Linked DNA regions of Homo sapiens. The protein of the gene in region 2 purifies or fractionates together with the protein of the main gene of each other region. This does not show direct contact. Each region holds a gene or a part of one and is shown on either strand. Other genes may lie near its edges.

Region 1 (3,500 bases), on a different chromosome or scaffold from region 2:
TGCTGAGAAGTTTACGTTACATATGGCTGTTTATTAGGCATATTTTATCCTTTTGTTCTGAAATTTTTCTGGTTGGAGATAGTTAAGTATTTCAAGCACTGACACTGAGATTTAAAAAAACCATAGTACCATTGCACTGAAAAATGTTAAATAAAATTAAGGAAACTAGTTCAACCACATATATACACATTATTGAGAAGCTAAGCAGTTACCAAATACTAACGGATAATGTTCTAAAAATGGTCAGTTATGTAAATATTTTGGAACCTGAATGCATTTTTCAATAGAAACTACTGTGGTGTTAGTTGGCTTTCTAGGTAGTTCTCCAGCACTTCCAGACTGTGGGAGAAAAACCATAAGATTAGGAATGAGAAGACCTGGGTTCTGGCTCCAGCTTTGTACTATATAGCTTTGATAAATCATTTTATTCCTGATCTCCTCAGTTTCTTCATCAATAAATTAATAATAATTCCATAATATCATCTAATACCCTGTCCACATTCTAATTCTCCAATTGTCTTGAAAATAGACAATGCCTTTAAGAAATTGCTATAAAAGAATAGCAACTTGAAGAGTTACCTATGCTGCAGAACTTTTCATACAGAGGATTTTCTTTGAAACAACAGTATCTTTACGATTTGGGAGGACTACAATCTGTTAGAGGATATCTGTATTTTACTGGCAGAAGAGAAGGGTAAGATGGGCCTCAGAGAGGTAACTAGTTGGCTGGGGTGAGGACCACTGTCTTCCCAGCCTGTTGTACTTAAGGTGCCGTCCTACTGCTGATCAGTTTCATGATTCTACCCCATGAGGAAGGCAGTGGCTACAGGTCCAGGAATGGCCACAGGTCATCCACACATAAACAGATATTCCTACTCTCCAACAGAATCTATGTGATGATTTACCTTAATCAGGTCTATTAATACATGAAAAAGGAAATCTGGTTACATATACTAAAGATTAGAGTCTAAAAAAACCAAACACTTACCGCCTCTCAGGGCTAATGACACCTGTCATTAACTTGTCTGTTCCTGTTGAATTTACTGGTATTTTAATTGGAGTTTCTTTCAGGCACTGGTTTCTAGCTATTAGAAACAGAACAAACACAATCCATATGCAGCACATACTATGGTTCTGAAATTTCTATTATTAATAATAATGCAGGTATCACATTATTCATTGACTCAGAAACAGTATAATCACTTGACCTGTGATGTCGAAGGCTCTAATTCTTTCAAGAAATGTTTCCATGTGATTTATAATAAAAACAAAATCATTTTGCTTTGTATGTGTGGCTCTTCTTTTTTTTCTTCACTGCAAATTTAGGCCATGCTTTTAATTTTATTATAAACATCATATGATAAATCTAAACAGATCATATAAATACAAATCTCATAATTACTGATTCTTTTTCTAAAAATAAAAGTCAATCTGTATTTATACAAGGGCCCAATTTATGCTTTTAATTGATCTAGTATTAAAAGGTGTTAATTGAATTCATAGCCCGATTCAACTCATGTTAGGCAAAAAGAACAGACCCCTGTGAAAGCTTGACATAAGTTATTAAAGAGATGTAAGCTTTGGCCAGGCACAGTGGCTCATGCCTGTAATCCCAGCACCTTGGGAGGCCGAGGAGGGCGGATCATGAGGTCAGGAGTTCGAGACCAGCCTGGCCAACATGGTCAAATGCCATCTCTACTAAAGATACAAAAAAATTAGCTGGGCGTGGTGGCGCACGCCTGTAATCCCAGCCACTTGGGAGGCTGAGGCAGAAGAATCCCTTGAACCCAGTAGGCAGATGTTGCAGTGAGCCGAGATCGCGCCATTGCACTCCAGCCTGGGAGACAGAGCAAGACTTCATCTCGGAAAAAAAAAGAGATGTAAGCTTTGATTATTTTTTATATTCCCTGTTCCAGAATTTTGTGTTTTATTCTAAGTAGGGTATTTGCATTCCAGATAGTTTATGACAAATTTGTACTAACGAATCTGGTTATACTGATTAGCTCATGATCTAAAAGTTTTATACCCTTTAGAGATAATATTCACACTATAAAAACAAAGATATAATATCAAAATTTTAAAAGAGATTAGGGGCTTGGTTTTGTTTATGACTATTTGGCTACATTCTCACTTTCCACAAGAACAAGAAAATAAGAGCAATCAGAAATATTTATAAAAACAGTTTTCATCTTTGTATACAGACAGTATCTATCACCATACAGAACTGCCCTTCAACAAACTGCCAATGCCTGCATTGTGTAGGAGTGACGAAAATGAAATTTATGTTTATGTCAAAAATAACTCACAATGAAAGTAAAATGCAGGTCTGGGCATGGTGGGCTCACCCCCGTAATCCCAGCACTTTGGGAGGCCGAGGCAGGTGGATCACCTGAGGTCAAGAGTTTCGAGAGCAGCCTGCCCAACATGTTGAAACCCCATCTCTACTAAAAATACAAAAAATTAACCGGGCATGGTGGTGCGCACCTGTAATCCCAGCTACTCAGGAGGCTGAGGCAGGAGAATCTCTTGAACCTGGGAGGCGAAGGTTGCAGTGAGGCAAGATCATGCCACTGCACTCCAGCCTGGGCAACAAGAGTGAAACTCTGTCTCAAAAAAAAGAAGAAAAGAGAAGAGAAGAGGAGAGAAGAGAAAAAAGAAAAGAAAGAAAAATGCAAAGTGCCAGTGGAAGCTAACAATCATGGCTTCAGCCACTTGCTTCCTTAAGTGGCTCGTGTTTAAAAAGAAACAACCAATAATAGCTTTGACCAACACAATCTTTCTCGTCATGACAACATATGTCAACTGATAATATTTCAAGATTATAAAATAAATTCCAAACTACCCATATTGCAAAACCTTCAGAGTTACACAAAAAGTAAAAAATGTCAATAATGGAAGGGATTATGGCATTAAAATTTTTTTTAAATAAAAAAGCCCTGGGCCGGGCACAATGGCCCACGCCTATAATCCCAGAAATTTGGGAGGCTGAAGAGGGCAGATCACCTGAGGTCAGGAGTTTGAGACCAGCCTGACCAATATGGTGAAGCCCTGTCTTCACTAAAAATACGAAAATTAGCTGAGCGTGGTAGCAGGCGCCTGTAATCCCAGCTACTAGGGAGGCTGAGGCAGGAGAATCGCTTGAACCCAGGAGGCAGAGGTTGCAGTGAGCCGAGATCGCACCACTGCACTCCAGCCTGGGCAACAGAGCAAGACTCCAACTCAAAGAAATTAAAAAAAAAAGAAAAAAAGGGGAAAAAAAAGATCGTTGAATGAGCTAAGGTGAGCTGAGGTCCGTTTTATCTCCCTGCCCAATCTCATGAGTCACAAAGGGTACTGTATTTACAGTAAGAGAAACAACAGAACAGAAAGAGACCCTTTCATTGGGAAAGAATGCAATAGCAGCTACCATTGCAGGGTAGAGGCTATCTCACTGAATTCTCATAACAACCACAGGCAGCGCCACCGCACCCCCCCACACACACACCATCACACACACACAC
Region 2 (4,133 bases):
GGTCTTACTCTGTCACCCAGGCTGGACTGCAGTGGTGCGATCTAGGCTCACAGCAACCTCCCTCTCCTGGATTCAAGCAATACTCCTGTCTTAGCCCCCTGAGTAACTGGGATTACAGGCATGCACCACCATGTCCAGCTATTTTTTTTTTTTTTTTTTGTATTTTCAGTAGAGATGGAGTTTCACCATGTTGGTCAGGCTGGTCTCGAACTTCTGACCTCAAGTGATCCACCCACCTCTGCCTCCCAAAGTGCTGGAATTACAGACGTGAGCCACCACGCCTGACCTATTTTCAAAAATTTAAGTTTTCTATTTCCCAAAATATAAGTGCCAGGAAGGCAAGGATTTGTCTTTATTTTTGTTCACAGCTGTATTCCCACTACCTCAAATAGATTTTGGCATGCAGTAAATGCTCAAGAAATATTCATTAAACAAATGAATGGCCTTTAGGATGGCCATTTGCCAATAAGTTCATAAATTAGAAATTAAAATGGCCAGGTTAAAAAAAAAAAAAAAAACATTGTTTTTCTCCCCCCAAGTTAAATTAAAAGACCTTGTGACAATTAGTTCTGGCTCAACTAAAGTCTAACTGTGTGACTATAATCAATTTGCTTAACATTCTGCTCCTTCATTTCTCCATCTGGAAAATGGGCATAATAGTACCAGAAACATTCTTCAAAAGCTTTCAAGACTCTCAAAAGAGGCAACAACTATAAAAGCATTAGGTTCAAGATTCAATGCAGATGCTTAGCATTGTTTCATAAAATTAAATAAGGATCTCATTGTCCTTTAACTCACTAAGCTGGCAAAATTTCATTTTTCTGCTTCTGTTCTTATACATACTAAAGACTATACATTAAGCAACTTTCTGTATTTTCATTTCATCCAAAGTATTGTTGATATAAATTTTAATTAACCAATCATTTTCAAACAAAACTGTAATTTCTGACACTTTAAATTTGCCTTCAAAGTCACAAAGTTTTAAAGATAAAAATAGATATACTCAGAAAATCCAACCTGATATTTATTGAGACACGTGAAATGGCATTTTTCCAGGGTAATCATTCCTTCCCCCTCCCAATATGTCAATAACAAACCAGGGTTTTTGTGGTGGAAATTCCATTTATTCTCTTCTCATTTTCTCTTTCGAGCTAAATTCTATTGTAGAGTCTTCCCTTCCAACCTTTAAAAAGCGACCCTGTACCTTTAATAGTGGAGACCTGGTGAGAGGTTCTTTTCCAAACTTGTTCCCTGGCTTCCAAGTGACGAAACCAGCTGTAATTTGAGAGCAGAGAGATCCTCAGGATATCTTTAGCCAAAGGAAAAGCTCCGCATTCCCACCCAGTCCAGAAATTGAAATACTATCAGGGGGCAAGAGCCTTTCTCTCCAGCTACACACTCCATCTCCCGGGAGCAAGGGGAAACTCCGAGAGGAGGGCAACAGAGCCAGCATCTTGCCAGGGCCCCGGAGGAGGGGTTCCCCGCTACGCCTGTGCCGGAGGAGTTCCAGTCACCGAGCGAGGGGCGCAAGGGTGGGTGCATCCTGCGCTGCGGCGGGCGCGCTACCCAGACGCTGGTGTGCAGAGCCACATGAAGCCTGCTGGGGACTGGGGGCCAGGGAGCAGCAAGCCAGCTGGGACTGAGGCGGACGCTGTCTCAGGGAGACGCTGACTCGCAAAGACACTCCCTTCCTTGTGCCTGGGTAAAAAGTCTCCTCCTGGGGTCCCTGGCCATCCTGAATATCCAGAATGGTGTTTCTGAAGTTCTTCTGCATGAGTTTCTTCTGCCACCTGTGTCAAGGCTACTTCGATGGCCCCCTCTACCCAGAGATGTCCAATGGGACTCTGCACCACTACTTCGTGCCCGATGGGGACTATGAGGAGAACGATGACCCCGAGAAGTGCCAGCTGCTCTTCAGGGTGAGTGACCACAGGCGCTGCTCCCAGGGGGAGGGGAGCCAGGTTGGCAGCCTGCTGAGCCTCACCCTGCGGGAGGAGTTCACCGTGCTGGGCCGCCAGGTGGAGGATGCTGGGCGCGTGCTGGAGGGCATCAGCAAAAGCATCTCCTACGACCTAGACGGGGAAGAGAGCTATGGCAAGTACCTGCGGCGGGAGTCCCACCAGATCGGGGATGCCTACTCCAACTCGGACAAATCCCTCACTGAGCTGGAGAGCAAGTTCAAGCAGGGCCAGGAACAGGACAGCCGGCAGGAGAGCAGGCTCAACGAGGACTTTCTGGGAATGCTGGTCCACACCAGGTCCCTGCTGAAGGAGACACTGGACATCTCTGTGGGGCTCAGGGACAAATACGAGCTGCTGGCCCTCACCATTAGGAGCCATGGGACCCGACTAGGTCGGCTGAAAAATGATTATCTTAAAGTATAGGTGGAAGGATACAAATGCTAGAAAGAGGGAATCAAATCAGCCCCGTTTTGGAGGGTGGGGGACAGAAGATGGGGCTACATTTCCCCCATACCTACTATTTTTTTATATCCCGATTTGCACTTTGAGAATACATCTAAGGTCATCTTTCAAAAGAGAAAAATTGGACACTTGAGTGACTTTGTTTTTAGTTTTGTTTTTGTACATTATTTATGTGATTGTTATGGAATTGTCACCTGGAAAGAACAATTTTAAGCAATGTCATTTCTAGATGGGTTTCTAATTCTGCAGAGACACCCGTTTCAGCCACATCTAAAAGAGCACAGTTTATGTGGTGCGGAATTAAACTTCCCCATCCTGCAGATTATGTGGAAATACCCAAAGATAATAGTGCATAGCTCCTTTCAGCCTCTAGCCTTCACTCCTGGGCTCCAAAAGCTATCCCAGTTGCCTGTTTTTCAAATGAGGTTCAAGGTGCTGCTTTGCATGCCTGCCAACCCATGGAAGTTGTTTCTTACTTCTTTTCTCTCTTATTTATTAACCATGGTCTGAGAGTTGTTTTTGTTCTATGTAACAGTATTGCCACAAAACTATAGGCAAATCGTGTTTGCAGGGAGATTTCTGATGCCTCTGTGGGTGTGTGTAAGTTAAAGTGGCCACATTTAAGAAGGCCAAGCTTTGTAGTGGTTGCACAGTCACACTGATATGCTGATTTGCTCTTTCTCATTGTATGTCTATGCTTTGTCATCAGTGCTATAGTAAATTACAAAGAAATAGGTAGATTGTATGAACATACCCACAAATGCCTATGATTTAGGTTACCAATGTATTCTTTCTCATTTGGGGTTTTGCTTCTGTCTGTCTGTTTATTGGAAACTTGTACTTCAAGTAGGGGGAATCCTAATTCTAATAACTCCTTAGCTAAGTTTTATTATTCAGGCAATAAACATGTTTTCATGTAATACTGGCTTACTTTGTAATTTACATCTGTAACTTTCATATTTCTAAAAGGGGCCAATGCAAAAGGAGAGAGAAGGACTGGATTTAAGCCAGTTTACTTAGAGTATATGATAAAGAAGGCAGAGGAATAGCTACATATTTGGCAATTCTCCTCTCTGTAGTCACCCTGACATCCTCACAAGAAAACAAATCTAGCCATTGCCCAAACTTTAAATTTGATCTCTATAGGTCTGCTTAAAGACTCAAATTTTCTCCAGTTTCTCTCATAAATTCAATTGCAAAAGTTTCTGACAAGGCTCATACCCTGTACCCTTATGCAGAGCAAGCATTCCATCCTAAGTTATAAACTACAGTGATGTTTAATTTTGAAGCCAGGTCTACATTATTTAATTAATGGCTTCAAAAGGTGGAGATGCACTTTATTTAATGTCTTTCCCTAGCTAATTCTTACTCTCACCTTAAATATGCTTTCTTGTTGCATATATGCACAGATACACACACACACACACACGAAAATAAATAAATGTTCATATTCTTCTGTTCAACAGACATTTATTTTCTCCTCTCCCTTGAATAAGAAAATAAGTTTTCCATTCCTATGAACTGTCTAATATCTTTCTATTACAGAAGGGGAAACTGAGGCTGGGAAAGGCTAAATGACTTATCCTCCATCAGTTATAACAGCCCCTGGTCTTCTTAAATTTAAACACGGGACTTCCCGAACTAATTTTTTTAAGGATACTGAAAAATGAGAGAGAGTGGTCGAATGCCTGAAATTTTGCTTAACTTACT
Region 3 (3,500 bases), about 15 Mb from region 2:
AGGGTAAATAGATGTTACAAGAACACCACCCAGAAATTCAATTTCCTTTTAGATTTATTTACTCTCCTGAATTTGTTTATACCACCATCATCCCTCACAAAAATGTAACAGTCTGATCTTTCCTCTTTTCCTGAAACAGTTATTTTCAACTTTTTTTTTAAAGAAGTACAACTTTTTATAAAATGAAATATTTTATAGAATGCCAAATAGAAAACAGAAGACAGTGGAGTTTTGTTGTTTGCAGGGAGGGGAGGGAGCACCTACAGGCAGAGTCTGGGAGACCCCACTTAACCCTTTTAATTCTCAGGCCCCAGATCAAACCTTCTACAAGTTTAGGTCTCCTGGGTACACAGTTTGAAAACCACTGCCCTAAGGCATCTATGTAAAATTAAAATTATGTATGTAACATATAATACAGGCAAAATATTTATGTATCAAAAAAATTTGTAAAATACACAAATCACAAACACTGAGTCTTTTTTTCTTCTTCTTCTTCTTCTTTTTTTCTTTGTAGAGATGGGGGTCTCACCATGTTGTCCAGGTTGGTCTTGAACTCCTGGGCTCAAGTGATCCTCCCACCTTGGCCTCCTAAAGTGCTGGGATTATAGGTATAAGCCACCACGCCTGGCCAAACACTGATAGTCTTAGAGAACAATAAGCAAGGACACAAATAGTCCCACAAGATAAAACAAATACCAGGGGTGGGGGAGGATATTAAGTTCTAGAGTAATCAAAGGAGTACAAATCAAAAGAATAGAGCATTTGACAGGGATTACATTTACTCGGAAAAATTTGAATGATAACACCCAATGCTGGCCAGGCTCCATGACTTTGGTACAATAAGACACTGTTGGTGGCTGTAAAGAAAGCCTTTCCTTCTGAAAAAACAATCTTTCATAAAAATGTTCAGACTCTTTGAGTCAGTACTAATCCCACTTCTGGAAAGACATCCTTAAACATAATTCAAAAAACAGTGAGGTGAAGATGTTCATTTCTGCTCTAATTATAATAGCAAAACAAATGTCCAATAATAGGAAAGTGGTTGAATCAATAATAGTATACTGATGACAGAATACTATGCAGTCATTAAAAATACAGTAAAAGTTCTCTTTAGAAACTCTCCATTTAATCAATTCTCCAGATTAACTATGCTTGCCATTCCCTCTGTAACAAACCCTATTTGTCTCTAGTACCACTGCCCACAGCTCCTGCAAATAGTTGAGTTTTACACTTACCAGTGGTCCACTGGGTTTGTTCTCAAACGTGTTTACACTATTTGTACTTGTCACTGTAACGGCATAACCTAATCACGTATTATATAAACCAATGAAATATGACGGCTAAAAAGATGAGTGTTGTTTCTAAGAAAATTACTTTAAGTTCTAAGTGCTTTGCAAAGGTTTTATAAACGGTAGTCAGTTAAAGAATAGCAATCAAATTACATGTGAGCAAAATCATTGCAAAAGATCAGACAAAAATCGTAACAATTTAGGCTACTACACTGAGACTGCTTCATAAGCACCTTTAAGTTTCCAATGAATTTTAAAGAAAACAGAACTATGGGATATTATGGGAGTGGTTTGTGCAAGGAAGATGAACAGGACGCCAATTGGCAGATGCATCCCAAAGACAGAACTTTGGCCTGATATCAAAAGTCTAGCAAATGAATGTACATTTTGGAAAACATTAAAATAAAAATATTTAATTGTATGTATGTAATACTTTGTTGTACTCTCCTCTTTAACCAATTTTTCTATTAACTAACTCAAGCCCTGACCACGTTGACTAAAAGGGATTCTTTGTCCTTTGAAAACAAGTCCGCTATGACAAGGACCAAGAGTGCCCATACTCCTGTAGAGTGTCTCTAGTATACAGTTCACCACTGTAATCACTTTCTCAGTGCAGTGTCTGGCACACATTAGGTCTCCAACAGATAAATGTTAAACCAATAAACTATGTAGCAAATATGGAAAAAATAGTGCTTCGTTAACAAAAAGAAAGTGAACAAAGCAGAATATAAAATTACATGTAAATCATGACTACACCTTCATTTTGAAATATGGAGGCAAATGAACAAATCCAGAAGGAAATGCTCAAAATGCAAACTGATTTTTAGGGTAGAATGAATTATGGGCAATTTTATGCATTTTTAAATATTTTCTTAAACATTGGCACATTCTTTTCCATATTCAGAAAGCTACTAAGAAAAGAAGAAAGCTATCTTTATTTTTACTGAATTTCCAAAATAAGAACTGAATCAACATTTCCATTTCCTGCACTCTCCAACACTGAGAACTCCTTTAGCAGATTCTTGCTTCATCCGCCTCACCGTGTCAAGCCATCAGATCTTTCTACTCCTAAGATGGAGAGAACCTGACCCTTACTAACATTTACTTTGTGTTTCTAAACCCCCAGGATGCTTTTTTTAAAAACTCATAAGTTATCCACCCTCTCATTTAACGTCTATTTGGTCAAAAAACTTCCCAAAACTGCAATTTACATTCCCAAGAGATTCCCAAACACCATCTAATTAAATCATTCAATCAGAAAACAAATTAAAATGAAATATCACTGCAACTCCCAAGACGAAAATAAACTTTTCAGTCATGACTAGAACAGACCTCTGGGGTGATGCTCCAAAGCCTCTTCTAATTGCAAGTCCTATGGAACATCCTGCAGAACATTTTGTGACATTTGCAGCTTCAAGGAGACTTTCCTTCTAACAAAAAGAGGAGCCTGGACAAGACTCCAAAGCAAAACACCTTTTTTGGAGAGTGGTAACACTTTCATTAATAACCAACGTGGCCATAGGCATCAGCACTCATCCATTCATCCACGCTTCCACCCCACAGCTACTTTCTGCAGAATGTGCCAGGGACTGTCCTGCATGTTCAGTAAACATTAGTTAAAGGACTGGAACCTCTGCCTCTTGGCATGAAACAAAGCAAAACCTGAGTTTATCTATGGAGTTTCCAAGTGGGAAGGCTGCTGACTCCCTCACCCCTCAGCCATCCTCTGACACCCACTTCCACCACTGTCAACAGACTCCAAGGGACCCTGGGGCCCTCCTGGGAGACAGTTTAGTACGTGGGTAAGAACTTAGACTTCTGAAGCCACACTAGCTGAGCTTACATCCCTATACTATCATATACCAGTGTGTGACCCTGGACAAATCATATACCCTCTCCCTGCCTCAGTTTCCATATCTGTAAAATGGAGCAAATATTACCTACTTCATAAGGTTGTGAAGATTAAATAAGTCAATATATGTAAAGTGTTTAGAATAGGGCCTGACATATCCTAGGTGCTATGTTATTTTAGCTCTTATTATTATTACCGCTTATTCCCTCCAGTTCAGCAAAGTAAACTGGATTGTTCAAAGGGCTATGCTGACTAGAGGGAACTTGACAGTGGGTTACACATAAACAGCTTGTACCATCAAGCACAAGAGCTTGATCTTATTGTCCTTTACCACCCTCTGCCTTCAGAGAGCTGCACTT
Region 4 (3,500 bases), on a different chromosome or scaffold from region 2:
TGGCAGCTTAGTTACCAGATAGTGTTATTTATCTAAGCCCTTTGTGTGTTGGGGTGGAATGGGGAGCCGCCCACCGTGAGAGACTCCACCACGAGAGACTTGTCAAATAATTTATTTGAGCCATGTACTATCAAAAGAATATTATGGTTACTGTAATGTTCTCCATCTAATAATTTTCTATATTTTAAGACTCCTTAAAGACTGACGCCCTAGGAAAACATCTGCAATCTACCCTTCGGTTGTGCTCTACACCAGACAGAAGGGCCTGGGGAAGGAGTATGGCATGCGCTATGTTTCTTTCTGCAGCTGGGCTAGAGGAAAGGAATGCAGGCAGGACTCCACAGGTGCAGAGTCAATCAGTATGTTCCCTGGTCAAAAAGTCACCAGGAAAGGAGCAATGGGTCACTCCTGGTCTCCATGGCCTGTGTCTTGAGAATAAACTCCTAGGAAAAGAAGAAAGATGCACAAAAGGTTCGTACCTGATTAAATTAATGTGGTTGTTAAAACCTCTGCTAAGACTTCGTGCTGGCATTTGATCTAACCACAGCACGGGCTGGTCTGGGTCAGCAATCCTATAAAACAGAGACCTTTATAAAACCAGAAGTGTTCAGAAGCATTCCAAATAAAACATGTAGAAGTGTTTGCAAAGGTGGGGATAAAGCAACAGCTAGTCCATCATATCTAAAAACGTGATGTCCATACCTACAAATTCCAAACAGATGTTCCAGCTGGACCAGGCGAAAAGCCAGGTAAAGGTAAAGGTTTAGGAGCAGAGGACAGTTTTTGTCACGCAAATGAATATCAAAGGTTACTCTAAACTAGCTAGTTGCCAGGCACACCATTATCTGTAAAGGGACTGGTCCAGCGAAGTTCATTCAGAGGTACCACAGGTAATGGATCTGTTCTTTCAAAGAGACTGTTTCTAAAATGCTTCATGTAAATAGGTGATTGAAAATGTGACAACAATCAATTCGTTTTTTTTGTTTTTTGAGATGGAGTCTCGCTGTGTCGCCCAGGCTGGAGTGCAGTGGCGCGATCTCGGCTCACTGCAAGCTCCGCCTCCTGGGTTCACGCCATTCTCCTGCCTCAGCCTCCGGAGTAGCTGCGACTACAGGCGCGCACCACCACGCCCAGCTAATTTTTTGTATTTTTAGCAGAGACGGGGTTTCACCGTGTTAGCCAGAATGGTCTCGATCTCCTGACTTGGTGATCCGCCCGCCTCGGCCTCCCAAAGTGCTGGGATTACAGGCGTGAGCCACTGCGCCCAGCCAATCAATTCCTATTTTGAAAATATTAGTTAAGTGTATGTCAAATAATAAAGATGCCAGCAATTTCTAACAAACTTTAGAGAGGAAAACCTAACTTGGAAGGCCTGGTGTTAGCAAGCAAAACAGGGTTCATAGCCTGTTAGCTAAAACAGACTGACGTTATTTGACAATGATAAGACTTATAGTTTATTTTCACTGAGATGTTAGTTACCTTCTCCATTTAACTGCAATGTCAAACATGTCTCTCCACTGCATCAACCGTGTCTTCCCATTCATTCGAACTTTCGAGTTGGTCCATGTACGCTGCACGGCTTGCATGACCTCCAATGCGGCCAAACCCATAGCTACGAGAAAGGAATATCGAGAAGAGTTAGTACACTTTAGAGGGACTGAGTTCCACCTACTTTACAGAGTCTCAGTGATAACTCAAGAGTTAACACATAAAGGGTCAGAAGTATTGGTGATATAACAAGACCCAAGGCACGTTTCAGTCATGATGGTCCTACTAAAATTAAAACCCATCAGAGTTAACTGAAGACAACTCAAGTTGTCTGCTCCCAACTCTGCCTCCTACTGAAACAAGTGGAGGTTTGCATTCTTCCTCACTCCTATAGTAAGGAAATAGCTCCCTGGATCAGCTGTCTGATTTTGAGTAAGGACTTAAGACCTATATTCTAGTTTATACTACAGCAATAGCAAAAAAGCCAAGGATGGAAGCAGTCTTCTTTCAGAATTCAGTTTGAATGATTCTACACATTTCTATTCTGATCACATGGAGAATTTGAATAAGCACAATAAATACTAATTTATTAAAATGCACAACATGGCTTAACCACCCTTCCTCTTATGCCAGGAATATTTTCATTTTCAGGTAGTTTCCAGAATACCTCTGTGTATTCTCTTGTTTGGCAGGAAACCAGGTGTTTCATATTGCATCAGGGATCCCAAACGATCAGCCACACAAATCAGCTCCTGTACTTCAGGCTTATAACTCTCAAAATTCTGATGTAACACATCTCTGGAAGAAACATCATGTACATGATAAGGACTTTTACAACAGACATTTGGTAATCCAATTCCACCTGAGAAGCAGTCACTTCCTCCACGGGAAAACTAATGAAGCAGTCTACGACCACATAATCCTTACTTCAGTCCTTTGCACCCAACCATACCTCAGCTTAAAAGGGAATCTCTATGATGGCATGTGCATAATTGCCATCACATGCTGGTTAGTAACAGTGAAAACTATGATAACTAGTATGCAATTCAGAAGACACCTCTTTCCATTATTTGCTTTGTAAACTTCTCCAGAATACATTCCTGAATGGACTGCCTTTTTCAACAAGCAACCAAACCTCTGCCCTTTGTCCACTCCTCAACCCTGCCCAAGTTGTATTAGAACAAGTATACTTGGAATGATACATTGAAATACTACTGTTTAGCTGCCAACCTGCTTGATGCTTTTATAACAAAGACTGAAACTCTAAATTACAGGTTGTTCTGGGGATCTCCAAGACCATCCTTACTCAGGCTCAGAAATTGGCTGAAAGGGCTCAGTGGACTTAGCACATAATGATACTCACAATAGTGAGTATCATTTTTTATTTTGTGTCCTTTACAAAACAAAACCGGCAGAGGGAAGAGGCACATTGGGAGAAGTCTGGAGGAAACCAGTCACAAGCTTCCAAGGGTCCTCTCCCAAGGAAGTCATATATGACACATTAAATTCTCCCAGCGATTAGTTGCGAACACGTGTAAAATGCTGCCAACCAGGAAAGCTCATTAAAGACTCAGTGGCCAGGGTTACAGACAACTTATGCCTGGCAAGTTCCCAAATTCCAGATACCCAGAAGGAAAGCAAGTGTTGAATAGAAATCACACTGTTTGAACACACAGTTTAGGCACAGGGAACCTCTCCTATTAGTTTTGGGAGTGGTAGGAATCCCCTCGAAATCCAAGTTCCCAGATACCAACCAAGGGTCACTCTTGCAAGCAGTCCTTTCTAAGGACAGCAGTCATAGACCTGCTACTATGTTAACTCTTTTGTGCATCGAAATATTTCTCAAAAAAGGAGTAGTTCGAGAACATGCATAATCTCCATGAGCAATCAATTTTCTTTTTATTATTTTTGCTCATTTAATAGTTGAGACACATAGAAAACACGAAGTCAAATTACCCAGTTTAAGAACTAGAGCAATTCATGCAGTTGTATCTACTTGTATGCTGCTTTCC
Region 5 (3,500 bases), on a different chromosome or scaffold from region 2:
TTTCACTGTTCCTGAGTCATTTCCTGAGTGCATGAGTTGATTCTCTGAGGATTGGGTGGACTCCCCCTACCTGGGGCTCCCAGGCAAGGCCACATCTCAGGCACTGAGGGTCCTGACCTTGGGGCTATGTGTTCCCTCTAGCCTGAGGCCCTCCCAGGTAGGGCCAGGTGGCCATTTCCTTCATTTCCTCACCAGCACTCAAGCTAGGGCTTTACCCATGTCACAGAGCTAGGCACGCTCACACAGATGCATACCTGCATACATACAGACACATGGGGTACATGTACGAACACAGGTACTGACAGTAAACAGTTACAGGGGCCTACAGTGGCACATTCAGAAGCAAATGTGCCTGCAGTTGTACAGGTGCCCAGATATTCTAACACAGGGACACAACTGTAGATGTGAACACAAATAGGACCACATAGACACAGATAAGGCAGAGCCGTGAACATGGATGTGTGTACACACTGCACCAGTATGCAGACGGTGAGCACACGTGTACATGGATTCACGGAGACCCATCCCGCACCTTGTTTTTCTCGAGCTTCTGCCGCTGCCGTTCCTCCAGGGCTGCACGGCGTTGCTCGGCTTTAAGACGTTGCTCCTCCAGCCGGCGCCGGCGCTCCTGGAGCTGCTTCTCCCGCAGCGCCTTGGCCTTCTCCTCCTTCTCCAGCCACACTGCCTTCTTGGCCGCTGTGGACAAAGGAGCCCAGTGGCGTGTGTGAAGGGTTCTGCAGAAGGCCTGGGCCAAGGACATTTCCTCCAAGTGGCCAGCCCTGCTACCCATGCCCTGGGTGGGTCTTTCTCCCGCCTGCTTAGGTGGAGCTTTCAGTCTGAGACAACCCCCTCAAATTGAGAGGCTTACTGAAGACAGGACTCAGGAGAGGCCTATTTCTCCTCCATTGGCCTTATGGGCTCTCAGGGCTGAAGGAGAAATGAATGCTTGAGTGCAAGATCCCCATCTGACCTGGGGGGCCTACCAGACAGATGTCCACATACTGTGATTAAGAGCATGGGATTTGGGGTGGCAGGAGGCTTCTGGGTCTGAATGTCAGCTACTCTACTAGCTGTGTGGCTTAAGCAAATGATTTCATCTCTCTGAGCCTCTGTTTCCTCCTCAAAATGGGTTGAGGATTAAATTAGATGTGTGTCCTGCTCTTAGCACAGTGCACATAATTAAGTGTTGCAGAAGTGTTGGTTTTTTTTTTTTTTTTTTTTTTTTGAGACGGAGTTTTGCTCTTGTTGCCCAGACTGGAGTGCAATGGCACAATCTCGGCTCACCACAACCTCCGCCTCCCAGGTTCAAGCAGTTCTCCTATCTCAGTCTCCCGAGTAGCTGGGATTACAGGGATGTGCCACCATGCCTGGCTAATTTTTTGTATTTTTAGTAGAGACAGGGTTTCTCCACATTGGTCAGGCTAGTCTCAAACTCCTGACCTCAGGTGATTCGCCCGCCTCGGCCTCCCAAAGTGCTGGGATTACAGGCGTGAGCCACTGCGCCCCAGCCTGTTGGTGTTATTAATAGGATGCTGATGATGACGATGAAGAAGATGATGAGGCTTCCTGCTCACTCACCCAGGTACTTGGCCCGCTCTTCTCGCCGCTCCTTTGCCAGCTTGTGTCTCTCTCCTGCCTTCTTCACCTCTGAGCAGAGGGAACAAGAACAGACAGGTCAAAAGGCTGTCCCCAAAGAGGAGTCAGCCTCAGATCCCTCCCTCCGGGCCTCACCCCATCCTTTCTTTATCTCCTCTAGGGCAAACAGGACTCTTTCAGTTGGCATGATCCAGGGCCAGGACCCTGAGCCAAGAGGTTTAGGCCCAGGCCGGGGTCATTACACACACCTTGCTTGGTGGGAGGGCTGTCGGAGGCTGGCACTGCTGTTGGAGATGGCTGGCTGCTCCTTCGAGGAGGTCTGGCATCCCGTGGGCCCATGGCTGGTGGGGTGGGTCCTCTGCTCTTTGCTTCAGAGGAAGGGGACTCTTCCTGCGGGGGGGCTGGCCTAGGCCCGACCTGCCCTGAGGGGCTCTCTGGTTCCAGTGGGAGCTGCTTAGAGCTAGTGGCATTCTTCATGGCAGGAGGGGTGTCCGGGGGAGTGTCGGGGACCAGGGCTGACATTGGTGGTGGTGGGGGGGAAGGGTCACCTTCTGGAGAAGGTCTTGGCTCTGGGGGGGTCCTGGCGACCACAGCTGAAAGACCAACACAAGAGAGGAGAGAGGTCAGATTGCTCATCTGTGCCATCAGCCCCATATGTGGCCCTCTCCCTTGTTCAACCGACTTCTTCATTCACTTATGTTTGAGTTATTTCTATGTGCCGGGCCCTGTTCCAGATACTCATGATATAATGGTGAGAAAATAGCCATGATCCCTGCCTCTGTGGCGCTTACCCTCTAGCAGGGCAGACAGACAAATAGCTAGGCAACTACAGTAGAGAATAAATACTATGTCTGGGGCAGCAAAGCAGAGATAGTTAACCTATATGGGGAGGGCTTGCTGAAGAAGTAACAACCAAGCTGAGATCCGAAGGATAAGCTGGAGTCAGCAAAGCAAGGAGGAGAGGTGTTGGCAGAGAAGAGTATATGCGAAGGGGCAGAATGGAGCAGGGTGTGTTGGAAAAGCTGAGAACAAGCTTGTAGCACTTATTCGTGCACCAAATGCACTGATTGTTTCCATGTCTGCCTCCCTCTCCTTTCTGCTTTACTTCTGGGTGACTGTGCCCAACCCAAGGTCTGTTCACAGAGGGTGCCAGTGCTGGGCACATGGGACTGACCAAGAGGAAGGACGTAAGTATGGGCTCTAGTGGAATGCTTTGCTGTGAAGATTCCATTGGCAACAAGCTACGTCCACTTTATAATCTTTTTTCCCCAAGCCACACCGAAATTTCTGCTTTTAAGACATGACTATTGTAGGAATCCTGTAAAAGACATCGAAGTGAAGTAAGGGAGCCACACGATTTGACATATACACATGTGGGGCAATTGAGAGACAGGCTTCAGAGTCAGTCAGATGAGGAAGATGGGAAGAGAGGGCTTGTTTCCCCAGCAGACAACCATGGACAAGCCAGTCAACCTCTCTCAGCCTCAGGTTTTTTTGTTTTGTTTTGTTTTGTTTCCCCCCAAGTCTACTTGCTGCTAGTGAATTTTTCAAGGGTCTAGTTAGTTCCTTTAAGTCTCTTTTTTTAAATTTTTATTTTTTAAGAGATAGGGTCTTGCTATGTGGCCCAGGCTGGATTCAAACTCCTGAGTTCAAGAGATCCTTCTGCCTCAGTCTCCCAAGTAGCTGGGATTACAGGCCCATGCCTGGCTCAGCCTCAGTTTTGATACCTGTAAAATGGGGATAACAAGCCCAAGCTAGTAGGGAATGTCAGCAAGGTGCCTGGCACTATCCACATGCCAGCCAGCAAACAGCACTCCCTGTTGGTCTTATGAAGCCTCCTGGTCTCCCAAACAGAAGCTTCTGTATGTTGAGCCCTGGTGCCATCTGCTGCTACCATCCAGGCA
Region 6 (4,023 bases), on a different chromosome or scaffold from region 2:
CACGAGTGAAAAATCAAACCTTCTAATGACCTTGAGCAGTAGGATGTAATTAACTCCCTCATGCTTACCATTCCAATAATGGAACACTAGGCATAAGTGGTTTAACACAATCATGAAAGCATAGCTATTCAAGTAACTAATTATACAACTGATTTTTTTCCTCATCCCTAAAACATAGTAAAGGACCAGTTATTTTAAAAATACAACACAGTGACAATTTTGGCTTGTTGTTTGTTAAGGCCATTGCTTGGCATAAAGAAAACAAAAAGAGGAGGAGAAACAAGAATAGAAACATGAAATAGAAGCAGCAGCAAAAGAAAATGAAGAGGAACAAGAAGATGAGAAGAATACACAGACTAGAAAAAGCAAAAAGAACAGGTGCAGGAATTAGAAGGCCTATTATGACACCTTTTATCCCCTCCCCAATTCACAAAATTTGAAAAAGTCCAAGACCATCACAACAAAAAAGAAGGAAAAAATGACCGGGAGTGGTGGCTCACGCCTATAATCCTAGCACTTTGGGAGGCCAAGGTGGGCGGATCATGAGGTCAGGTGATCTAGACCATCCTGGCCAACACTGTGAAACCCCATCTCTACTAAAAATACAAAAATAAAATTGGCTGGGCGTGGTGGCAGGCGCCTGTAGTCCCAGCTACTAGGGAGGCTGAGGCAGGAGGATGGGGTGAACCCAGGAAGCAGAGCTTGCAGTGAGCCGAGATCGCACCACTGCACTCCAGCCTGGGCAAAAGAGCGAGACTCTGTCTCAAAAAAAAAAAAAAAAAAAAAAAAAAAAGCCACACACACACACACACACAGTCACCCCCTAAATTTTGTTAAGAATGAGACAATGCTGCCACTCATGCCTGGCTCAGAAGGAGGCCACCCTCCAGAGATTGCAAGAGAAGGGGGAGGACTCCTTTCCCTAAGTGCACCTCCACCACTGCCACCGAGGCCCATGGTACAGCACCAGCAGGTTCCTCCCCACCCCAGGTCGGACTGGGCCCTGCAGTGCTCCTACTCCCCCTTCCCAGTCCCCAGACTTTCTGCCACTACCACCACTAGCACCAATGCCAATACAGTTGCTGTCGCCGTCAATGCAGCAGCCCACCCTACAAGGTTCCTACCACCTTGCCCCCGCGGGCACCCTCCTACCACTCCTGTCGAGCTGCAGTCTCCGTGGCTGCCATCAGTCACACGAGGCGAGCTGCAGAGTCACGCCACATGCAGGCTCCAGCGTACCACAGGTGATTCCTTCTCCTCCTCCTCCAGCCTGGCTTGGAGCAGCTAGACCGGCAAAGCCAGAAAAGCCTAGAATGGGATGCAGGGAGTGGTAACGTTAGAGCCTCACCTTGTCATGCTGGCCACTGGGTGGCAGGGACCAGCTTCAGCTAAGGCACTCACACCCACCCACCGAAGTCCAGCCTCTCTTTCTGGCAAAAGGTGGCCAGGAACTGGGGCGGGTGTGAGTGCCTATGCTGAAACCACCCCCATCCAGGTGCAACTGGCCAGAAATTGCTGGGCCCACCAGGGCTGCACTCCTTGGGGAGCAGGAGTAGGAGAAACTCAGACCCAGCCAGCCCTCCCCACTCAACTGCTGGTTCCCGTTCCTGACACCTCCACCCACAGTGCCCTGTTCCCACAGTCCCCCGCGATGCCCACTAATCCCCACCCGGTAGTCCCAGGTGGTCTCCCCAACACAGAGCATGGGGTGTGGGCGGGAGGTGCAGGCCGGAGAACCGCAGTGGGTGTGGGGGCCCTGCCCTGCTCAAGATTGCACGAGCAGGAACTCTGGAGTCTGGAAAAGAGAAGAGTTACCCGAAGGAGCAAGGAGACCATGGCTGTTGCTGTCCCCACCACCTCTGCAGCCGACCAACACCACTGGCAGTATAGCCCCCATAGCAACCCTAACCTGACCCCTGCCGCCGGCAGTGTAGCCCCCGGACAGCACACCCAACACACCCTGTGCCAGTTGCAGGCAGTGTAACCCCAATACCCCCCCCCAACCACCCCTTCCACAGGCAGTGTAGCACCCGATAGTGCCCACAACCTGACCCAGCCACAGGTGTTGCTGCACAAGACAGTGCCCCAAAATCGCCGCCCCCACCCCACCACAGGTAGCGCAGCTCCTGATAGCGCACCCTGAGTAAGGGCAGTGCAGCACCCGACAACACTCCTAAACCACCCCCCGCTGCCAGCATTGTAGCTCCAAATAACCACCCAAACCACTCCCTGCCCCGGGCAGTGCAGCAGAAAATAGTGCCCCTAACCCCTCCCCCGCCACCGGCAGTACACGTTAGTGCACACAACCTGCCTCCCCCCCACCACCCCCGCCACCACGGGCAGTGTAGCCCCGGACAGCCAGCCAAAACCGCCCCCCTCCACCGCCAGCAATGCAACCTCGGAGAGTGCCCCCAACCAGCCCCCTGACACAGGCAGTGCAGCCTCGGGCAGTGAGCCCCAATAGGACACCCAACCCCTGCCCCCACAGGCGGGCAGTACATCCCCGGATAACTCACCTACACCAGGACATTTCTACCACTCTGGCCGAGCTGCAGTGTCCCACGTCACCACCAAACACAGCAAGGCGAGCCCCAGGGGCTCAGGCTCCAGCCTCCAGCATGCGTCGGTGCTGCTCCCTTCTACTCGTCTTCCTGCCTGGCAGGAGAAGCTCCCGCTACTAGTTGCCCTCCTACCGCTCTGTGGACACCACCAACTGCAGTGAGCCAGTGTCCGAGGCTCCAGCCAGAAACAGGTAGCAGCCATGCCGGTTACCAAACGCCCACACTTAAGAGCCTGAAATGACCTGACGCCACCTCCGCATGCTTTACGTACTGAGGTTACGCACATGTGGTTCCCAGACTACATGTTCTGATTGGATGAGAGAAAAACCTCTAGGCCTACTCTGATTGGACTTTATTTTCATGCTGTGATTGGTTGTCTTAAGACTGGCTCTCATCCAATCAGAACATGATAATAAAGTCCAATCCAAGTAACCCTGGAGGGTTTTTCTCATCCAATCAGAACATGCAGTCAGGAATCCTCCTGTATATAACCGCGGTATACGCCTGCTGCTGAAGGGAAGTCAGGCTCTTCCACGTTCCCGTATTTTCCTGTGGAGCTGCTCAGTGCCCGGCTTAGAGGACCAGGAATGGGTAATCACCAGCCGTACGCTGGAGGCTGGAGCCGCTACACCGTGGCTCGCCTCGCTGCGACTGGTGGTAACCGCGACCGAGACGGCAGTGCGGCGGAAGCGGTAAGAGGAGGAAAAGAGTTTTGGGATAGATGGAGGGGGTAAAGAGGGTGGTTAGTGCCAAAGGGAAGAGAGGATAGTGAGCAGGAGAGCGCGTTGCAAAAAGGCGGTGGGGAAAAGATAGTGGGAAAAAAAGTTTTTGGGTAGATGGAGGGAGAAAAACGGGGTGGGGAGCGGCAGGGAGGGAAGGTTTTGCAGAAAGATGGTGGGTAAAATGTTTATGGGTAGATGGAGGAGGAAAAGAGGGTGGCAAGGGAGGAGGAAAGAGAGGGTGGTGGGGGGGAGAAACAGCGTTGAGCAGTAGAGAGAGAAGGTTTTGTGAAAAGACAGTGGGGAGAAAAGGTTTTGGGTAGATAGAGGGGGAAAAGAGGGTAACAGGTGGGGGAAGGGAAAAGGGTAGCCAGCGGGAGGAAGACAAGGTTTTGCAAAAAGATAGTGGGCAGGAAAGAAAGACGGTGGAGAAAGAAAAGACAGTGGGTAAAAAGTGTTTGGGTAGATGGTGGGGGGAAAGAGGGTAACGAGGAGGAGGAAAGAGGGTGACGAGAGGGAGCAGGGAAAGAGAGTTGGGGAAAAAATGGGAAAATAGTTTGGGGTAGATGGAAGGCAAAAAAGAGAGTGGCAAGCAGGATAGGGCAAAGAAGAGGACGAGTGGGAAGGGGGGAAGACTGTGAAAAGACAGTAGGGAATATTCTGGGGGGTGGATGGAGGGGGAAAAGGGGAGGTGAGCAGGAGTGGGGAGAAGGCTTTGCGAAAAGACTATGGGGAAATGTTTT
Region 7 (3,731 bases), on a different chromosome or scaffold from region 2:
GTGGGGGGCGCCTGTAGTCCCAGCTACTCGGAAGGCTGAGGCAAGAGAATCGCTAGAACCCGGAAGGCGGAGGTTGCAGTGAGCCAAGATTGCGCCACTGCACTCCAGCCTAGGCGACAGAGGGAGACTCTGTCCCTCACACACACACACACACACACGAAGAGATAGGATCTGGCTCTCTTGCCCAGGCTGGAGTGCAGTGGTGTGATTATCACTTACTGCAGCCTTGACCTCCTGTGCTCAAGCAATTCTCCCAAGTAGTTGGGAATACAGACACTTCACCCAGCTAATTTTTTAAATTTTTTGTACATACAGGGCCTCATTTTGTGGCCCAGGCTAGTCTAGATCTCCTGGGCTCAAGTGATTCTCTCTCCTCAGCCTCCAGAGTTGTTAGGATTACAGGAGCAAGCCACCACACCCGGCTCTGGGTCATAAATTCTGTCCCCCTCTAACAAGCAAATAACAGACAAAAAAAACCCACACTCAGTCACAGAGCGACCTGAGTCTTAGTAGTAGCGTTTTAATGGCAGCAGCCCCAAGAGGAGAGTCAGAGTCTGGTCTGCCCCCGGAGCAGGAGGCTTGGGCTTGGAGGGCCCATCCCAGCAGACCTAACCATCCACCTCCTTCCATTGAACTGAGGCCAGGAAAGTGCGGATTTCCATGGGTTCCAGCGTGATGTTGGCCGGGTCCAGCTGGTACGGAGTTTGGTGGGGTGTGGGGCCTGGAGAGGTGCAGGGGGAAGGAGGAGTGAGGAGGTGCAGACTTCCTCTGACTCACCCCACGATGCTTCCTCCCCTGGGTCTAGACACAGCTGCATATCCCCGAATCTGTCTCCAGGGCCTCAATCCCAGACTCTTAACCTGCTTCCCCGGCCCCGAATACCACCCCCAGGTCCAATGTCCTCATACCCTCAATCTGGCCACTGTCCTCGTACCCTCAATCTGACCCCAGGGGTGATGAACACCCTCCCAGAACTAGACATGGATGGGGATTTTCAAATCTTGTTCTTGGGACTAAACAGCACCCACAAACCTCAAGACCCATTCCTGGTTTGCCGCACCCATTTCAGATCCTTTAAGCCCCTAACCTGGGTCTGGACTCTGCCCCATACCCTCATGACCTTTTTGGGTCCTGGCCAACATCCCATGCCTCACACATTGCCCCCACCTGCCGGCCCCAGGTAAGACTCCACCCCTTCCCTACCCCTGACCAGGGCCCCACCTGTGTTTGTTGTCCACTTGAGCCTGGAGGCTGCCTCGCGGAGCTGGTTGGCCACCAGCGTGGTCTCCTGCAGGCGGGTGATGGTGAAGGTGGAGAACAGGTCCTGCGGGGAAGGGGATGGGCCCAGATGAGTTGGGGCAAAGCCAGGTTTCTCTTCTCTCCCTCTCTCTTGCCTCTCTCCGATCTCCTTCTCAATTTTGCCCTTCTCACCCTCAAGTTCAAGGTAACGGGGGCGCTCAGGTTACGTCCGGAATCCTCTCCTACGGCAAACTGGTGCTCCAAGCGCAGCAGCACCATTTCGGGGCCCCAGCTGGCCAGCGTGAGCAGGTGCACCGAGGGCGGCAGGTCCCTGCGCAGCCCTGAGAACTGCGGGAGAGAGGGCGGGGCTGAGTTGGAGAGGGGCGGGGCCTGGATGGAGAAGGGCGGGGCCGAGCCAGGTCAGGAGGCAGGGCTAGGTTGTAGGGGCGGGGTTTCGCCGGAGAGGGGCAAGGCTCAGCCGAGAGGAGCGGCCAGGGCCGTGACAGGGAGGACTGAGCCAATGGGGAGATGGGTCGGTCCCAAGCTTAGGGTTCGAGTCCCGATGGAGCAGAACTGATGTGACCTGAGACTTTGGGAGTTACGGCGGGGCTGAAGCCGCGGGGCTGGGTGAGGCAGGACAGAGCCTGGGGGCGGTGAGAGGGCGGGGCTAAAGTGAAATGGGCGGGGCCGGAGGTGAGTTGGTGGTTTAGGGGCATGAGCTAGGGCTGTGCCTCTACACAGTCCAGGGGGGTTGGGACTGGGCTGGCACTGGGCGGGGACTGCCCAGGGGATGGGGTTGGCCCGAGGGTTTGGGGCTAATTATGGCCAAATGGATCCCCGCTGAGCCTAGGAAACTCCGCACCCAAACCCGGCTCCCTGGTAGACTTCAATCCGGTCCTCTCTGCCTACCCCGCTGCCCCTCACCTGCGTGCGCGGAGGAGCCCCGAGATTGTAGGCGGCGCCGCCACCCGGGGCCAGCACCACCTGAGGGGCCAGGACCTCCTGCTCCGCCAGGAGCCGGTGTCCGGCGGCTGCAGCCTGGGCTGTGTCCAGCAGCACCAGGTGGCGCCCTCGCACCCACGCCCCCGACCCGTTCTCCATTAGTGGCTCCGATACTCCGCGTCCATCGTCCTTCAGCAGCCTTCGGTGCACCTGGGGGGAGAGTGGCCAGGAGGGGGTGAGAGTCGTGGGTTTGTGGGTGTCCTTGGGCCAGAAACTGGGTAAGGGCGTGTGGGAATGTCAAAAGAAATTAAAGGGTGGGAGGAACGGATGAGGATGAAGGTGAGGGTCTGGTAGGGCAACCCCAGCAGAGGCAGGATCCAAGTAGGCATGGGAACCAGGCCGGAAGGAGGTAAATGCCTAACAGGGGGGCCTGGATATGGCACGCCAGAGCGTGGAGGGAGCCTGGGCAGGAGATGGAGAAAAACGGAGAGGAAAAGCCACACACAGAAATGGAGTCCTTGGCCGGGAGCGGTGGTTCACGCCTGTAATCCCAGCACTTTGGGAGGCCGAGGTGAGTGGATCACCTGAGGTAAGGAGTTCGAGACCAGCCTGGCCAACATGGTGAAACCCCATCTCTACTAAAAATACCAAAATTAGCCGGGCGTGATGGTGTGTGCCTGTAAGCCCAGCTACTCGGAAGGCTGAGGCAGGACAATCACTTGAACCCAGGAGGCAGAGGTTGCAGTGAGCTGAGATAGTACTATTGCACTCCAGCTTGGACAACAAGAGCAAAACTCCGTCTCAAAGAGAAGAAAAGAAAGAAACGGAGTCCTCAGCTTAGTGGGGCCTGAAAGCAGAGAACTGGGCCAGAAACAGCCTTCAAGGTCCAGCAGGGGTCCAGGTTGGGAGGACCCTGGCTCGGATGGGGCTCTGACCCACTCACCATGAGCTCCAGCGAGCCATCTCTCAGGCTGCTGCCCCCCTGGGAGCGGTCAGTCAGCACAGTCAGCTGCATGTTTCCATCCTGGGAGTTGAAGGGTGAAAGTAGAGGGCAGTCAACCCCAACCCCAGGCAGCTTTGAGATGCTGCAGATAAGGGGTGATTCCCTTTCTATCGAGGTGGGGAGGTGCAGGATGGGGGAGAGCTACCGTGATGTAAATCCGGGTGTTGACTGGATAGTAGTTTCCTGCCACGGGCTCCGTCTGGTTCAGTTTCCAGGTGGGTCGATAATCCCGCCTGGGGTTGGGGGTGAGCTGATCAGGCTTGGGATCTGGCTCCCCAACTCTTTTTTTTTTTTTTTTTTTTTTGAGATGGAGTCTCGCTCTGTCACCCAGGCTGGAGTGCAGTGGCGCGATCTCGGCTCACTGCAAGCTCCGCCTCCCGGCTTCACGCCATTCTCCTGCCTCAGCCTCCCGAGTAGCTGGGACTACAGGTGCCCGCCACCACACCCGGCTGATTTTTTTGTATTTTTAGTAGAGACGGGGTTTCACCATGTTAGCCAGGATAGTCTCGATCTCCTGACCTTGTGATCTGCCCGCCTCGGCTTCCCA

What was found.
Region 1: the proteins of FIBIN (region 2) and MELK purify together in Homo sapiens (affinity purification with mass spectrometry; one large-scale study listed by BioGRID and IntAct). This does not show direct contact.
Region 3: the proteins of FIBIN (region 2) and GALNT18 purify together in Homo sapiens (affinity purification with mass spectrometry; one large-scale study listed by BioGRID and IntAct). This does not show direct contact.
Region 4: the proteins of FIBIN (region 2) and TTC13 purify together in Homo sapiens (affinity purification with mass spectrometry; one large-scale study listed by BioGRID and IntAct). This does not show direct contact.
Region 5: the proteins of FIBIN (region 2) and MAP7D1 purify together in Homo sapiens (affinity purification with mass spectrometry; one large-scale study listed by BioGRID and IntAct). This does not show direct contact.
Region 6: the proteins of FIBIN (region 2) and POTEE purify together in Homo sapiens (affinity purification with mass spectrometry; one large-scale study listed by BioGRID and IntAct). This does not show direct contact.
Region 7: the proteins of FIBIN (region 2) and MAN2B1 purify together in Homo sapiens (affinity purification with mass spectrometry; one large-scale study listed by BioGRID and IntAct). This does not show direct contact.

The regions. Positions count from the first base shown.
Region 1 is NC_000009.12:36,666,895-36,670,394, reverse strand, and holds part of MELK (maternal embryonic leucine zipper kinase), read right to left. Parts: intron 1,086-3,500; coding exon 989-1,085; intron 1-988. UniProt on the Homo sapiens protein: Serine/threonine-protein kinase involved in various processes such as cell cycle regulation, self-renewal of stem cells, apoptosis and splicing regulation. Has a broad substrate specificity; phosphorylates BCL2L14, CDC25B, MAP3K5/ASK1 and ZNF622.
Region 2 is NC_000011.10:26,992,779-26,996,911, forward strand, and holds the start of FIBIN (fin bud initiation factor homolog precursor), read left to right. Parts: upstream 1-1,333; 5' UTR 1,334-1,748; coding exon 1,749-2,384; 3' UTR 2,385-4,133.
Region 3 is NC_000011.10:11,615,506-11,619,005, forward strand, and holds part of GALNT18 (polypeptide N-acetylgalactosaminyltransferase 18), read right to left. Parts: intron 1-3,500. UniProt on the Homo sapiens protein: Catalyzes the initial reaction in O-linked oligosaccharide biosynthesis, the transfer of an N-acetyl-D-galactosamine (GalNAc) residue from UDP-GalNAc to a serine or threonine residue on the protein receptor.
Region 4 is NC_000001.11:230,923,362-230,926,861, forward strand, and holds part of TTC13 (tetratricopeptide repeat protein 13 isoform a precursor), read right to left. Parts: intron 2,287-3,500; coding exon 2,156-2,286; intron 1,613-2,155; coding exon 1,480-1,612; intron 573-1,479; coding exon 480-572; intron 1-479.
Region 5 is NC_000001.11:36,169,660-36,173,159, reverse strand, and holds part of MAP7D1 (MAP7 domain-containing protein 1), read right to left. Parts: intron 2,190-3,500; coding exon 1,845-2,189; intron 1,648-1,844; coding exon 1,579-1,647; intron 697-1,578; coding exon 533-696; intron 1-532. UniProt on the Homo sapiens protein: Microtubule-stabilizing protein involved in the control of cell motility and neurite outgrowth. Facilitate microtubule stabilization through the maintenance of acetylated stable microtubules.
Region 6 is NC_000002.12:131,208,313-131,212,335, reverse strand, and holds the start of POTEE (POTE ankyrin domain family member E), read right to left. Parts: upstream 2,801-4,023; 5' UTR 2,517-2,800; intron 1,309-2,516; 5' UTR 1,153-1,308; intron 1-1,152.
Region 7 is NC_000019.10:12,646,012-12,649,742, forward strand, and holds the end of MAN2B1 (lysosomal alpha-mannosidase isoform 1 precursor), read right to left. Parts: intron 3,418-3,731; coding exon 3,330-3,417; intron 3,206-3,329; coding exon 3,125-3,205; intron 2,392-3,124; coding exon 2,164-2,391; intron 1,588-2,163; coding exon 1,432-1,587; intron 1,325-1,431; coding exon 1,222-1,324; intron 722-1,221; coding exon 609-721; 3' UTR 501-608; downstream 1-500. UniProt on the Homo sapiens protein: Necessary for the catabolism of N-linked carbohydrates released during glycoprotein turnover. Cleaves all known types of alpha-mannosidic linkages.